2 separate regions of the Homo sapiens genome follow, and region 2 is linked to region 1. Evidence: fine-mapped expression QTL. A gene starts in region 1. The other region holds a variant in brackets. All regions are shown on one strand. Distances are between the middles of the regions.

Region 1 (8,340 bases):
AACTATGAACAAGAATTAATGTTAGCTTTTTGCCCAAGCAATTCTCCTTTCCTTCATGTTTATCTTTGCTTTCTCTTGAAGAATGACCTAAAGGAAGTAACCCACCTTCCACAGTCCTTTGAATTCATGGATACATAAATGAACACTATGAACTTTAGACTTTAAGAAGTGTATATTAGTCAGGGTTTGCCAGAGAAACAGCCAGTAGGATGGATATACATAAAGATATTTATTATAAAGTATCAACTCATGCAATTGTGGAGGCTGAGAAGTCCCACAATCTGTCATGTACAAGCTGGAGACCCAGTAAAGCTGGTGACAAAGTTTGAAAGTCTGGGAGCTGAAGAGCCAGTGGTGTAGATTCCAGTCCTGGTCTGAAGGCCTGAAAACCATAAGTGTCAGCGGCAGGAGATCAATGTCCCCACTCATGCAGTGAGGCAGAGAGTGAATTTCACCTTCCCCTACTTTTTTAGTCTATTCAAGCCCTAATGGATTGCATGAAGCCCACCAACACTGAGAAGGGCATGTGCTTTACTCAGTCCATCAACTCAAACACTAATCTCCTCCAGAAACACTTTCACAGACATACCCCGCCATCATGTTTAACCAGCTACCTGGGCATCCCATGGCCTAGTCAAGTCGACACATAAAATTAACCATCACATAGTGTTCCCCACATACAATGGCCCCACAAACAGGAACTAAACAATTAGCAAAGCTCTATGGCTCAATTCTAGAATTGAGGGTGTTAATCTGTTTTCTGTTAAGGAACTCTAGGCTCTATGTAAACTGAAACTGTATCAAAATGCTGACACTAAAATTAGAAATGGGAAGAAGTAGCTTTTAAACCACAAAATTAACTGGGGGTAACTGACAAGCAAGATTAGACTTGCACTTAAAGGAACAAACGTGATGGTCCAGTTGCTACGTAGCGACAGCAAACTTATCAACTCTCCTACTCAGCAATCTAGCAACAGGGAACACAGCAAACTGCTAAACCAAACACACACACACACACACACACACACACACACACACATATGTATGTATTCTGTCCAAATGCTGGAAGCAATTAAAAGGAGTAATTTGAACAAGCAATGCTGAGCAGCACAGTAATTAATAGGATACTGGCCTCCCAAGATTTATAGGGCCCACTCTAGTCTTCCTCTTGTCACATACCTTACCACAGGTGAGACACCCTCAGGGCACTATTCACCCAGACCCCATTACCCCTCCATTCTAGACCACCTTCCAGGTACCTGAGATCATGAAATTTCCTGCTCAAATGTTGGTCCCATAACTCGCTTCCAGGGCTTGATCAGGCATCTTCCCTAGGTCCATCCAATCAAGGGTCATTTGCATGTTTGAGATGCATATTCCCAGGACCAAGGTGGCTTTGGGGAGAGAGCTTGGTTATCAACAACTATAGTGTCCACATATTGAACTATACTGTCCACATATTGAACTATACTCTCCACATATTTCTGTGCAAGACTCCTTGTGGTGCAAGACTGAGTCAGGGGTTAGGAAGACAAGGGGGCAGGGGCCTGGGGGAGGATCTTCAACTGCACTCTTGCTCTCGTATTCACAAAAACCAGGGGCCGGCCTGCCACCAGGTACCCATCCAAAGAAAAGCTAGAGACAAATATATAGGAAAGGTTAAATAGTAGGTTTTTGTTGTGAGGGGCCTTATGAAAATTAAAAAGGTATAAAAATATTCGGAAAATAAGCACTGTGCAAATTCAGTGAATCTAAAATCCCTTATTTAATAGTAAAACTGCAGTGCAGAATTATGCTATAAATCATAGTGTTTTCCTATTAAGAAATACTTCTGATTTAAGTTTGATGTTTCCCCATTGCTTGGGGTGAGATGGGGGAATGTTGGAGTAGGGGAATAGTCAGAGATGGATGGCAAAGATTGGTAATAAGTTGTTACTGACCTGCAGAGTTTACAGCTTGAAAGAAAAACTGTAGGAGTTAAGATCCTCTTTCCTAGGAATCCATGCCATGAGAAGTTTAGGGATTGAAGTAGTGCCTGCTGACATGTGAAAACCGGCCTGTAAACTTTGCAAGCGATCCAGTAAATTATGCTTGTTCTAGTGGGAACCACCCCCCCCAACTCCGCATTCCAATCCCCAGGCCAGAATCATCAAAGTTGGCAAAAAATATTCATGGAGAGTAAGCAGGCTGTAGCAAGATAGGCTCTTCAGCAGGCAATCTTTGCTTCCTCCCACGTTATGACTGTCTTTCTTGCCAGTTCCCTAGGCAGATCAGACCCTTCACTTCCCAGTTGGCCTCCCTTCCCCAAGTGAATGTGACTTCTTACAGAACACAATTACCTATGTTGTCTGCCAAACTGGATTTTGTTTTGTTTTGTTTTGTGTTAAATATCAGCCCATTTTCACGACTCTGCAATTATGACAATATGTGGTAGGAAACCATTACTGTCAGCTCCAGTCTGAAACTGGCCACTTACCAATACACTTTGCCAGGAACAAGTCTTTCTGGATGGATACTACGTGGTTAACAACATGTAAAGATAAACGGCTAAACAAAATATCAACATTTTCTTACAAGGCTCAGCTTAAGGACAGAACAGTGATGTGCAATGGTTTTCATGTTGTATCCACAAACACAATTCTGTATAAGACACACTCCTCTTTTTTTAATGGTTGCTTAAACAAGTGGTTATCCGTTATGCTGTTGACATAGGAAACGGTGAAATGCTAGTAACCGAATCAAAGCGGCAGTGCAACAGGCCGCTCGGTGGTGCGCATTGTGTGGTTTGGTTCCTTGGATGGACACACTTGCTTTACGCTTCATCCCAATTTTTGTCCCAACCTCTTAGTGTATCTTCCTGGGAATAGTAAAAACAAAGCAAAACATTCTGGTCTTACTTCAAGCTGCCTTTGCACTGTTATTCCCTTGTTCCGCTCATTTCACGGGATTGGGTTCTCCTAACTTCATTGTTTGGTGAGTTGCTTTGCTTTGCTCGTTGCCCCGATCTTCTGTGTATTCTGCGCAGACCCCGCAAGTGCTCCTGCACTCCCTCCCAGCCCTCTGCTGGGGCTTAACGCTTCCCAGCCGAGGTCAGACTGCCGTGCGCTTCGAGTACCGGACCCCGAGGAAGCGAGAAACGCCGCTCCCGCCGGTCGCGGGCAGCTTCAGTACACCGGCAACACGCGCGCCTCTGCCCAGTGCCGCGCCCAGCGGGTGCTCAGACTCCTTCTCTCCCTCCCCGCCGGCGCGCCCCAGGGACTCGGAACGCCCCCGCGAGTGTGACGCGTCCTGCCTCCCCTGCAGCTCGCGGACACTCGCACTTGCAAGGCCTGGCCAGCACTCTTGGGCCCGCCCCCCGACAGTGCGGGGGCGGAGACGACGGCTCCCCTAGGCTCTGGCTCCCGGCCTTGGCCGGCGCGGGTAGGCGCGGGAGCCTCGAGCGCCGCTCGGATGCAGCAGCCGAGCCGCCACTCGGCGCGCGGCGGGAGACCCAGGGCAAGCCGCCGTCGGCGCGCTGGGTGCGGGAAGGGGGCTCTGGATTTCGGTCCCTCCCCTTTTTCCTCTGAGTCTCGGAACGCTCCGGCTCTCAGACCCTCTTCCTCCCAGGTAAAGGCCGGGAGAGGAGGGCGCATCTCTTTTCCAGGCACCCCACCATGGGCAATGCCTCCAATGACTCCCAGTCTGAGGACTGCGAGACGCGACAGTGGCTTCCCCCAGGCGAAAGCCCAGCCATCAGCTCCGTCATGTTCTCGGCCGGGGTGCTGGGGAACCTCATAGCACTGGCGCTGCTGGCGCGCCGCTGGCGGGGGGACGTGGGGTGCAGCGCCGGCCGCAGGAGCTCCCTCTCCTTGTTCCACGTGCTGGTGACCGAGCTGGTGTTCACCGACCTGCTCGGGACCTGCCTCATCAGCCCAGTGGTACTGGCTTCGTACGCGCGGAACCAGACCCTGGTGGCACTGGCGCCCGAGAGCCGCGCGTGCACCTACTTCGCTTTCGCCATGACCTTCTTCAGCCTGGCCACGATGCTCATGCTCTTCGCCATGGCCCTGGAGCGCTACCTCTCGATCGGGCACCCCTACTTCTACCAGCGCCGCGTCTCGCGCTCCGGGGGCCTGGCCGTGCTGCCTGTCATCTATGCAGTCTCCCTGCTCTTCTGCTCGCTGCCGCTGCTGGACTATGGGCAGTACGTCCAGTACTGCCCCGGGACCTGGTGCTTCATCCGGCACGGGCGGACCGCTTACCTGCAGCTGTACGCCACCCTGCTGCTGCTTCTCATTGTCTCGGTGCTCGCCTGCAACTTCAGTGTCATTCTCAACCTCATCCGCATGCACCGCCGAAGCCGGAGAAGCCGCTGCGGACCTTCCCTGGGCAGTGGCCGGGGCGGCCCCGGGGCCCGCAGGAGAGGGGAAAGGGTGTCCATGGCGGAGGAGACGGACCACCTCATTCTCCTGGCTATCATGACCATCACCTTCGCCGTCTGCTCCTTGCCTTTCACGGTAAGTCACTCCCTACGTTTCCACAGCCCGGCTCTGCTCAGCCTTCTCATGCTCTCCCCTGACGCCTCCACCCTTTCCACCGCCCTACAAACTTTTTGCAACTTGTAAAAATATGTCCTAATTTGTAAAGATCTGTAGCCTTCCCCACTAGTTTCCCCTCCTCTTTAGCCCACTTCCTTATCCTGGCTTATGGGCGTTGCTAGGCTAGAGTTTCTTATACAATAATACAGACCGTCCGAAAGGGAGTCCTGGGCCTCAGCTAAGCTAGCCAATCTCCTCATCCTAGCCCTGGGCAGTGTCCCTTTCTCGCTGTTGCCTATCTTGGCTTAGTAATTGAGAAAGAGGCAGCCCCTTCCACCTTAGGATGGCTGTCACTGTTCCAGCCTGACGACCTGGAGCTGCAGTTTGCTGCCCTGTACCTCTCATCCACTGGTGCTGGTTCTCCATGCTTGCCTTCTGTTCCTGCCAGGGCAAAATGTAGTACCCAACCCATAGCATTCCAGCTGCCATTGAAAATGGTCCCAGATGAGAAGGGTCCCTGAAGCAGAAGTTTAGAGCATTTGTTATTTGTCCTAAAAGTCCAACAAACATCTAGTTTATAGGTTTCCCAATTTATATATTTGAATGTAACTCTTTGTGGCCATGAAAGTTTATAAAACCATAATGATAACTAGAGGAAATACTTGGAGGAACATCTTGCTAAGCATTTGTAATATCTTGCAAAACACGCTCTTAATGTCACTGTCAGAAATACACACAGGTGTCCTTCAGCTTACAGTTATGCACTTGATGAGCACAAAGCCACAGGCAGGAATGGCTGGTCCCTCTCAGGAAGGGAAGAGTGGGGCTACCTGGGGAACTGAAGGACAAGAGACCAAGTCCTGGCATCGTGCTGCCTTGATTTGGGGCAACTTTAGCAGTTATTTGATGCTAACTAACTGCTAAATGATATGAGGCTGTGAGTTCAAGTCTCCTCAAGTGTAACGTTTTAGCTGAGCCTGGAATATGTCCGAGAATGTGCTGGCCTCTTACGGGGGCTAGGAATTGGGAGTTGTGGCAACTCCACTTCCTAATCTTCAGAAGAGCAAGACTGATGCTGCAGCATCAAAGCAGTTAATAGTGACTTCCACCTGCCACAATCTTGGAGAAAAGAGATGGGCAGTGCCTACTATTAACAGGTCTGACCTGTAAAAGCTGGAGGAGAAGTAACTTTATCCTATCTCCTGCCTCCATTACTGCTTCTTACATCTTCATGTGCTCATCCTCAGGGATGGGAAGGGACACAGGGTCCCAAAGGTCTGAATATGATTCTCTCCTCCCCAGCCCAGTTAACTCCCTTAGCTACGTTCTCTTCTCCCTGGTCCCCACTGTCCTCACCCTTCTACCCCATCCTCTGTCAGGGCAGAAACTGTTCTGAATTGGTTACACTTTGAGGGAATGAGATAGAATATTCAAAGACGCCCTCTTATAAAATGAAGTCGGACTGTGGGAGGCTGCATCTCCCATACCACTCTGAGCAGGGGAGTTTATGCAACAGAAACGCTGTGATGTAGAAACCCACATGGCTTATATGCTTTTGATTTATTTTACTGGTAGGAGCTTTTGATTATGTTAGGAGCTAAATCAGCTTTTGAAGGTCAGCACTAGGATGCAGAACATATATCTATGAAAGAAAGCATTTCAAGTTCCACCAAACAGCTTTGCATTCAGCTTGGGGATCAGAAACTATTCCTGAAAGACTGTCTTAGGGTGTTGGGAATTAAGATAATCAGTTCTTAGGGTTTTATCTGTCATTTGTGAGTATATTTATAAAAATATCCCCCACTATCAGCTACTTAAATAGCCTGGGAATGGGTTTGGGGTGATAACACACTTGTGAAACGATTTTTAGTCTCTTTCCTACACGAGCAAGAGGAAAAAGTTCTCCTCTTTGATCATGACTGACCCATTGCATAAACTGTATTTTTTTTAAATAAAGGTAGTGGTTTCCAACAGGTTGCCCTGTTTTCATGTAAATTGGCCTTTTACCATGAGAATTCCATCGTTGCCTTATGTTTTTGTAAATTCAAATATATGTGTGTGGATATAGATATAGATATTGTTTTCCCTCCCTCAGTTAATATTAGGCCAAGGGCTGCTCCAGAGTTGCCAGATAGAAGGGGCTTAGCCACAGAAATCTGGCTAAAAGGTGTTGAGGGAGTAGGAGCTTTGCTTTGAAGCTGTGTTTTTATTTCAATTTCCTGTTTATGGCTTAGGGGGAGCCAGATGGAGACTATGAAGGGGCTTTAGCTCCCCCAAACCACCTCTAAGCATTGACACTATCAGCAAACTGCTTTTGCTTCTGGCAAAGATTCCCAAAGAGCCGGAGAAAATCCTAGTGTGAACATAATCAGAAAGCCAGCCTCCCTGACTTCCATTGTTGGAGCTACCATGACACCATATTCAGATGAACTATACACAAAATGGAAATTGGAAGCATTGTCACCTCTTAGTAAGAAAATTTATATTGACCACTGATGGATTTTATTTTGTCAATAGATTATTGGGAATAATTGCTAGTATCTTTCACTTACATAGCACTTTAAGCTTTATGAAATGCTGTACTATCTTGATTTAAGTTATTTCTTGAAGGGCTTATCTGAAAATTCAAGCTCATGGCTACTGTTTGGTTCATACATTCTGCTGTTCAGAATCCTTGGCATGTGCCTCCAGGGGAGGTTGCTTTTTCCTCCAAGTCCTTTTATTCTACTTGGCCCACACTAAAATTGTGGTCAGAAGTGGCCTATACCAATCTCCCACCTGAAGCAGGAATCATTTCCACATGTCCTAACAGGGGGCTCTAGAAGCAAAGGTTTATGGTTGCCTTCAGAAATGTTTCTGTTTCTCTAACGGAGTGCACATGATCTGATAGAAATACAGTGTGAACCACAAATGCAAGCCACAAACGGAATTTTAAATGTTCTAGTAGTCATATAACAAAAAGTAAAAAGAAACAGAGAAAATTAATTGAATTACATATTTTATTTAACCCAATATATCTAAAATATTATCAATTCAAAATATTAGTTATGTAAAATAATTATTAATAAGCTATTCCAAGTAAGTTTCTTCCTTGTATCCCAGAAAATAGTAGCAATCTACTCTATCTCTTCCCACTCCTTCCTCAGGATAACAAGCTGCTTTCTTTGTCCCTCAAAAGTGGACCAAACCACTGGCAACAAGGAGGACAGCTGTACCCAGTGGGACACCAGTCTATTCCACAGCACTCCAGTAGTGGACAGAGGAGGGAAATGGGGGAATTCAGAAACCTAGAACTACTAATGTCAGGCATTGTCCCAAGGTTTGGGCAGGTTGGAATTACTGCTTCCTCCAAAGATGCCAGTCTAGGGCTTCCAAAATTTTGGAAGTAAAACTGTAGTTTTTTTTAAAGGCCCAGTCCCTTCAAGTGAAGTCCAATTCAACCTCATATGTCATTATTATCGACCACAAAATCAGACTTTTGAATGCTAACTTTTGCATTAACCCATTATCTTCACAGCACCGTAGGAAATAGTATGATGATTTCTATCGTACAGACGAGGCAAATGACTCACCCTGTGTCCCACAGCTAATGGGTGGTGGAACTGGGACTCAAAGCTAGGCAATTTAAGCACTGAGCCAATTAACCTAACCACAACACTATCCAAGAGAAAGTACTCATTTCAGGGGTAACAGATGAGAAGATTAATCTAAGATTTCATAAAAGAGCTGTGAGAATGTTATAAATATCTGGACCACTTTGCCTCTTAATTCCAACTAGTTAGCTTTAAAAATAAAATGGCAAAGACCTTTTTCTTCATGTCAG
Region 2 (8,340 bases), 37 kb after region 1:
GAAATTTTTTAGAATTAAAAAACTAATAGTCTATTAATGTGGAGAAATAAGACACAAGTCTGCAAAGATGAAGTATATAAATGTGTAAATTTTGCTACGGTGAGGAAATTGACTAAACGTTTATGTGTGAGAGAGAGAAAAAGAGAGAGAATGGCAGATATTTCCTGCATTGAAAGTTGCCAAGTTGGGTTTATTTGAAGAGACCTCATAATGACAACTTTGGTGACACTCCCTAGTCAGGGATCTCTGGATAGGGCAGGGCCCAGAGACTTGGACATTTGCTCAGGACAGTGCGCGCTGCAATCGACTAAGGCTGCTTTCTGTTGCTGCCAAGCAACAAAATTCAGAACAAAAACTGTTACCCACTTCTGATTCATCCAATATTTTTTATAGTCCATGGGTTCATGTTACGTGCTTATTGGCTTAAATTTATTTATTTAAATAAATAAAATTATAAAGTTTAAAATAAACCTAAACTTAAATAATGGTTTAGGTATATTTTAAACCTAAAATATAAGCCATAATATTATAGGTTGGATCAATGTTTTTTAGACTACGTTTGCTATTCTAATCACAACTGGGAAAAAGTGATCCCTAGCCCATTTGCTTTTGAGGCTCTTGCCTGACACCAGTTCATGTTTTCTGAAGAATACCAAAAGGAAAATGTTACCACCACTCACTCATTTAACAAATGATCTGCTGTTGATTTTCTGGGCTGCAGATTCTGTGTTAAACATTTAAACAGCCACACGGAAATGACAACTTACTGACAAAGTTGGCTAAGAAGTTCCATGGTTCCACAGTTCAGATCTCTAAGTATGAGTCCACGTTGCCTGCTTGCTCAGCACACAGGAATGCTTAATTTACATGGTACTTTTTTAACTAATAAACACTTCTTTCTAATGCAGGGCTAACTTGCAGAAGCCTAACTTAGTATTCTTGGGTTTTTTGAACCATATCACAGGAGATAAAGCAGGGAATTCTTTTCCTAAGAATCACTGCAAATTTGTAAATATTGTATGTCAGTAAATATGGCATTAAGATGGAATTTCTGTTTGGTAAGATTAGTGACTGTTATTTTCACAGCATGTTCTGACATAAGAAGAGCATACTTATTTTTTAAGCAGAGTACACGATAAAATGTATAATCCTTTCCCAAATCTCATTATTCAAAATTTTCTAGAACACAGCCTCCTTTGTTAGAATATAACCTTGTGGGCAGGAAATTTATCCTATTTATTTGGCATACAGGTCGTATCTAGTTAGCAGCTGTTGTGAATAGTGCCAACGCCAGATAATTACATGGATTATGGACTGCATTATCTAATCAAGAATCAAGATGCATGCCCTATCTTTTGCTCTTAAAAGATGGCATGAGAAAAACAAACAAAAAAAATGGAAGTAAAATATTAGGATTCTAATAACTCCCCAATCAAGAAAACTGTGTTTTTGCACATGAAGAAATAAGTGTGGTCATTGTGATTTTGGAAAAATATATAATCTCACACTAAGAACAGTAATGTAAACAGCACATGGACAATTAGCTATAAATCTCTAGAAAGCAATTCTTTATACTGAAGGACAAGAACCAAGATATTAATATTTATGGGTACACACACACACACACACACACACACACAAAACAAGAAACATGATGTGGTATGGCCTTGCACCTTGGGTTTGGCTGGCCAACCAAGGGGAAAACCCCTGACCCAAGCTGTCCTGGGCACATTCTCTTTTTGGTATTTGGAAATGGAGACGAGAAAGCTGAGTCAGAATCTACGTGTGTGACAGTCCCTGCCATGTGTAAGCTTGGGCATTCTGGGGAGGCCATGTTTTGCTCTGTGAACTAAAGGGCAGAAAAAGCCATTCAGTAAAGAGAAACAAAGGAGATGAGTGCTGTATAATCTCCTGTTGCTGCTGTAACAAATTACCACAAACTTAATGGCTTAAGACATACAGATGTGTGATCTTACAGTGCTGGAAGTCAGAAGTCTAAAATTGGCTGGCCGTTTGCATTCTTTCAGAGGCGATAGGAGAAATTCTATTTCCTTGCTTTTTCCATCTGAGGCTGCCTGAATTCCTTGGCTTATGGCTACATCACTCCACTCTGCTTCCATTGGTCACATCTTCTCTGACTCTGACCTTCTTACCCGCTTCTAAGGACTCTTGTGATTACACTGAGCTCACCTGGATAATCCAAAATAAATTCTCCATCTCAAGATATTTAATTTAATTGCAAGGTTCCTTTTGCTATATAAAGTAGCATTTTACAAGTTCCAGGAATTAGGACACCTTATGTGTGGTGGGGGACGGGGGGTCATTATTTGCCTACCCTAAAAGCTCAAGGAGGAACAGTGATGACAGGTTCCAATAAAATGAAAAGTTCCAGTAGCAAGCCATTCCTGCATTTCTGCTCTTGGATGCCATGACACACTCTTATACTCCTGTAAGAAGCCTTTTGGGCAACAGCTGCCTGAGCGCTCTGTTGACATGAATTCTGAAGACTTATTGGAATGTCATGATGAGTGAATGAATGTCTGCCAGGGCACCAAACAAGGAGAGCTATCTCATATGTGTCACAAATTCGCCATCCTTGCTCAGGATTAGAAGTTGTAGAATTAGTATGGCTGGGTGTAAAGAATCATTTTGTTCATTATAAAAAGGGGGCTTAAACTATGAACATTTAAATCCTTGTTAATAGTACCAGAACCTTAATTAAGGGCTATTTGCCTCAGGAGCCTGTCTGTAATCTCAGGAGCTGAGAGTAGGTAGGCCACATGTTACCATGCACTAGATGCATAGCACTTAGGAAAAAAATCAACTTGATGATTTTGCTACATAACACCTCTCCCTTTGAACAAAACAGTTGCTGTTTGGGGTCCCAGATCACAAACCTTTGAACAAAACAGTTGCTGTTCAGAATCACTGATCACGGACCTTAGGATCGCATCATACGGCTCCTCCTAAGTAGCATGGCCACAGGCAGGAGGCAATCTGTCTCACTAGGCAAAGCATTTTTCCATGTCAGAGCATTTGCTCACAAGAGAAGGCCATTGGTTTCAGCAACCCAAAGTTTTCTTTCTGTCAGTTTTGTTTAGTGCCCTGTGCCAGGAGCTCACTTATGCCTGTATCCTTGGCTCAATTTAATAGGGAATTCTGCCCTGAGTGACACTTAATAACCTCAGTAACCGCTAGCTCCAGTGTTCTCAGTGACTTCATAGTGCTGAAATTACATCGTCACATTCACACCAGCTAGAAACAAAGATAAGCCCAAGATGGCACAGAATTCATGAGGAGCCGAAGGGTGAGCTGGAGGGTATGGCTACGTTTTTTAAACGGCATCAAGAACTCAACCTGTCTCTCAGAATCAGTGAGAGCACTTAAAAGGAGAGGAGCCAGACTAAATAACTCACCAGGCAGACCTCCTCTGCTTAACTGCCTTGAAGTTTTCCCTTCCTGAAGAATTCTTTCCTCTCTGAAGATTTAAGGAGGCACATGTGATCTAATCCCCCACACTAGCTTCTAAACCCTGTAGAATGAGTGTTTACAAAGTAGAATCTTTTACTAGATATTGTAAGAGAGATGTCTGTGTGTGTTTTGCCAAGAAATTAAAATCCAGTCTTTGCCAAGGAGCATAAATATACTTG[G/T]CAGAATCCAGAGGCTCAGTAGCAAAGATAAAAGTAATTGTTCCCTTCAGCCAATTGCTCACACTTATTACAAAACATTTATCTTCCCCCAGGGTGGATTTTCTCCTCTGATGCCGTCTGGCCCAGGAGGACATCATCCTCCGCCCTGGAGGGCCCATGAGATGCTCAGGGCCACATCAGTACATTTCTATGCAGCTCCAGATAGGTACAACCCACAGAGTACAATTACTGACCTGAAACATTTCATCTCTCAGGGATGTGATATTTTCCCCTCCAGTAATGATCAACTTTTAAGAAAGACATTTATATTTTAACTATGTCATTCTTTCCAGTGCTTTAAAACCTGATTTGATTTTCTTCAGCTCTCTGGGCTTTATATAAATGTCAGTAAACTGAATGGGCTGTCAACACCTAGATTAATGATTGGCTAACAGGAGATTTCTTGGTTTTATATTCAGTGAAGCAACTCAGGGACTGTAAGCACTGTGGTGCTTTTACGATTTTTCCCTTAACCCTTTTATGCCCCTAAAGACGTATCACCCTGGGAGAAAAACAACCACAGTGGTCTGATTCTGAGTAAAACCTCTCTGTTCTTCCTTTTCCTGTGCGGTGTGCCCCAAACCAACTAATTATCAGAAAACTAAAATGTTGATACACCCAAATTTAAACTGGTTAAAACTTTTTAACACAATTTGAAGGTCAAAACAAGTCTAACATTTCAACAAAAACTTGTGCCATCATCAGTAACTAAAATTTAATAATACTTGGCAGTGAATTCAATTTACTCTGTGTACTTGACAATACTACAGCTGCGTTTCTTTCTAAAATAGCCTCTAAAACGTTTCAAATAACGCAATTGCTCATTTGTTTAGAACTATAGTTGTTTGTGTACTTATCTTACTTTTCTCTTGAATTGTGTGTTCCTGGAAGGGAGACACTTCAAAGCATTGCACAAGGAAACCAAACATGCATCAGACATAATCCCTGTCGTTCAGGACTTGAAAACACAAGAGATGAGAACTTCACACAAACAGCCATCCCCATCTTCTAATGGTCCTCTTCTTTTTCTCCTTGCACCCCACTGCTACACTTGCAAAAAACACAAACATTGCTTATTATTTATTAAGTGGCTCTTTTCAAAAACTTCTACAAAAAAAGCCGTCCCTCCAGATCCTTTTGAAAAAGAGTAATCCACATTATAAATCATTCCTATAAATCATCATAATAACATATAATGAGGTTACTATTTGGGATTTTTTGAGCAGAGAGGTAGAGTAGAAAGAGCAAAGAAGGAAGTCTCTTCAGAGAATGACTAAAGTAAGCCATTTGGCAATGTTGTTAACATTGTAGCTCACATTTTATATAAAAGCTAGACACTACAGATTTTAGATTATAAATTATTTTTAAAAATCAAACATCCTGGGGAAATGTTTTTAATACATTAATAATATTATTGTCAAGGTCTTTTCCCACAAAACCACAAATAAAAGAGTATAAAGGTCAGGTGTGGTGGCTCACGCCTGTAATCCCAGCACTTTGGGAGGCCGAGATGGGTGGATCACCTGAGGTCAGGAGTTCGAGACCAGCCTGACCAACATGGAGAAACCCTGTCTGTACTAAAAATATAAAAATTAGCCGGGTGTGGTGGCGCATGGCTGTAATCCCAGCTACTCGGGAGGCTAAGGCAGGAGAATCACTTGAACCCGGGAGGCGGAGGTTGCAGTAAGCCAAGATCGTGCCATTACACTTCAGCCTGGACAACAAAAGTGCAACTGTCACATAAAAAAATAAAAAGGTATAAGATGCATGGTTTTGCACATTTCATGGCCTGACAAGTAGTTATACAAACCAGAATTTCTTTTAATAAACCAAGAAAGTCAAATTTATTCCAGGAAAAAAAAGTAAGATGCAAACAAGTCAAAATCTATCACTAAGATTTTTAGATAATAAAGACACTTAAGAGTAACTATTTTCCACCTTCTTTAGCAAACTTAGTAAATCAAAACTTGGATTTACACAAACAATAACCTATGAAGTGCCTTGATAATATATGAAGTGAGGCCACACGCAGTGGCTCATGCCTGTAATGCCAGCACTTTGGGAAGCCAAGGCAGAAGGATTGCTTCAGCCCAGGAGTTCGAGACCAGACTAGGCAACATGGTGAAACTCTGTCTCTATAAAAAATATAAAAATTAGCTAGGCATAGTGCCGTGTGCCTACAGTCCTAGCTACTTGGGAGGCTGAGGTGGGAGGATCAATTAAGCTGGGAGGTCGAGGCTGCAGTGAGCCATGATTGTGCCACTGCACTCCAGCTTGGGTGACAGGGAGAGACCCCATCTTTCTCTCTCTTTCTCTCTCTCTCTCACTGTGTGTGTGTGTGTGTGTGTGTGTGTAGTGAAATTTAAGTATCTAACTTTTCTAGTTTTACTAAGCAGTTTATAAATGTAATTTTAGGATTACATGTGCTAAGTAAAACAAAGTACATCATAACAGAAAAGAGCCTCCCTTATGAGTAAAACACAGATCTTCCAAGATTTTAGCAAAAAAGAAAAGTCCCCAGGAAGTCATTCCAGAATGGGAGTCTGCTAAGGTTTTCCTCATATTGATTCCCACTGAAGCTCTGACTCAAAAATGAACACTCTTCCCTATCCCCTCCCTGCCCCATTCCCTAGTTCCCTTTGACCCATTTAATATTTTCTTTTAGACTTATAAATGCATATACTTGTGTTGCTTTTCATTTTGTAGTGGTTTTTGCTTGATATATTTTAAAACTTAACTAAATAAGAGAGAACATAAGAAATAATTATGGAAAATCAAAACTCTAAAAACAGGCACATTTCCAAAGTACATATTTCTGATCCTAAAATAATCTCCCTCTAACCCTAAAGGACCAGTAATTCTTTGCAGTCACCTTACCCAGCTCCCATCTTTTCCAGTTCCCTGCATTTCCCAAGTTAGCTGAGAAGTCTTGGAATCTATACTAATAAGAACCAATCTTAGAAAATAGTTCTTAGACACAAAATTTGACCCTTTCCTTTTATTTCCTTTCTTTAAATTTCCTTCACCTGTAAGCCTGCACTTAAGCCCAGTTTCCCATCTAAGAAACACAACTGATTAATGGGGACATGGTGATTAGAATAATTAATTATCCACCTCTTTCTAGCCCAAAAGTTACAAGTTCAGTCCACCTTCGGAGGAGGCTGTGATTCAGTGGCAAGTCACTAAGTATACAGCCAAATGTGTGATATCCCTAAACTGGACAACAGCCATTGCATACACACAATGTTATGTCTTACTCCACACTACTGGCTTTGGAGGCCATGGAACTCAGGGGGACTCAGCCTGCTCAGGTCTTATCCACAAACCACTCCCAACAGCTGAATAAAAGGAAGACAAAGCCCCTCAAGACTGCAGGAACAGAAGACACAAACACTTGATGAGAAAAGAGCCATAGGGCTGACTATTTGAACCGCAAAGGAGTTGTGGGAGGAAGTCATTGAGAAATGAAACTCAGATTAACAGCCCAGGACAAACTGGAATTTGACTACATGTTTATGACTCAACATGGAATGCTACCAGATTTTTTTCATGGACGTTTATTCACATCTGAAACATAAACTAGCAAGAAAAAAATCCAACAACAAAAAAATAGCAACAGACTCCCAGTAATTAGAATAATTTCTAGATTTCTGCTTTTTGTAGAAAAACTACAGTTTGAGAGTAATACTGTGAGGAAGACAGCAGAAGTCAAAGATTTGTGAGTGGTCATTTTTTCAGATGGGTTCTCTTTTCTCTTTTTTGTTGGTGTCCCATCCATATCCCCTCAACATTCACCTCATCGGAAACTCCCAGCCCTTGTGGCTCTCCACTTTATGGCTTTCTTCCTAGTCAGGGAGTTAGCCACACTACAAGTCAAGTCACAAGTGTCAGGGTTCATGACCCTGAGTAATCCTCAGTCCAATGTAAGATGAGTAGTTGGTAGATAAATACTCTAACTTCCTCACTCCTCGGTTGGTATAACTTTGAGGCCGGTTCTACACTGGATGCCAGGGTTCCCCAGGGGGATTGAGCTCTGCCTGCCCACGTAGTAACCCCATAACACACCGTTTAAAGGCTGCCTTCCCCTCCCATCTTACTTCTCCAGTTCCCCATTGGTATTTCCTGGGATCATTTCCCTCCCCAAATTACTCGTACCCAAATCTTTAGAGTTTGTTTCTGAGGGGACCCAAATTAAGACAGGGTCTTGGCTGACCCTTGTCTCACTGAGCCAAACATGAATGGCATGGCAAATCCACGTAATACCATGAAACAAGTCCCTAGGTAGCGCAGAACAGGTGTGCTTCTGTTCAATCATCTCACATCTGGCATCATGAAGGCTCAGTGGGATGGGTAAAGGTGGACTGGTGCCAATGTAACCAAAGCATCAAGTTATGAAGATTATGTAAACATTGATTCTGCACAGCATTGGCGAGTGTGTGAGAAAACAGGCATTCTCACTCAACCTTCATTGAAGTGGGAAATGTTACAATTCTTTGAAGGCACTATCTATCAAAACTTTGAATGTGTGTATAGACTTTGGCCCCCAAACTCCTCTTTTAGGAATTTATTCTGTAAAAATACTTGCACATGTATGTCTAGGAATTTTCATCATAGCATATTTAAAATAACAAAACAATTTCCACCAAAAGGA

What was found. PIP is the estimated chance that this variant, and not a neighbour inherited with it, causes the effect.
Region 2: its variant is fine-mapped to the expression of PTGER2 in whole blood (TOPMed, PIP above 0.99).

The regions. Positions count from the first base shown.
Region 1 is chr14:52,310,896-52,319,235 of GRCh38, forward strand. PTGER2 (prostaglandin E receptor 2) reads left to right here and starts at 3,417. Exons shown (of 2, transcript NM_000956.4): 1 at 3,417-4,496. The coding sequence starts at 3,654. RefSeq lists enhancers at 2,647-3,207, 3,208-3,767, 4,002-4,151, 4,172-4,311 and a silencer at 3,372-3,481.
Region 2 is chr14:52,348,167-52,356,506 of GRCh38, forward strand. No RefSeq gene overlaps it. Among named protein-coding and RNA genes, the nearest start is that of PTGER2, 38 kb to the left of the region's middle. The variant G/T (reference allele first, on the strand shown) is at 3,651.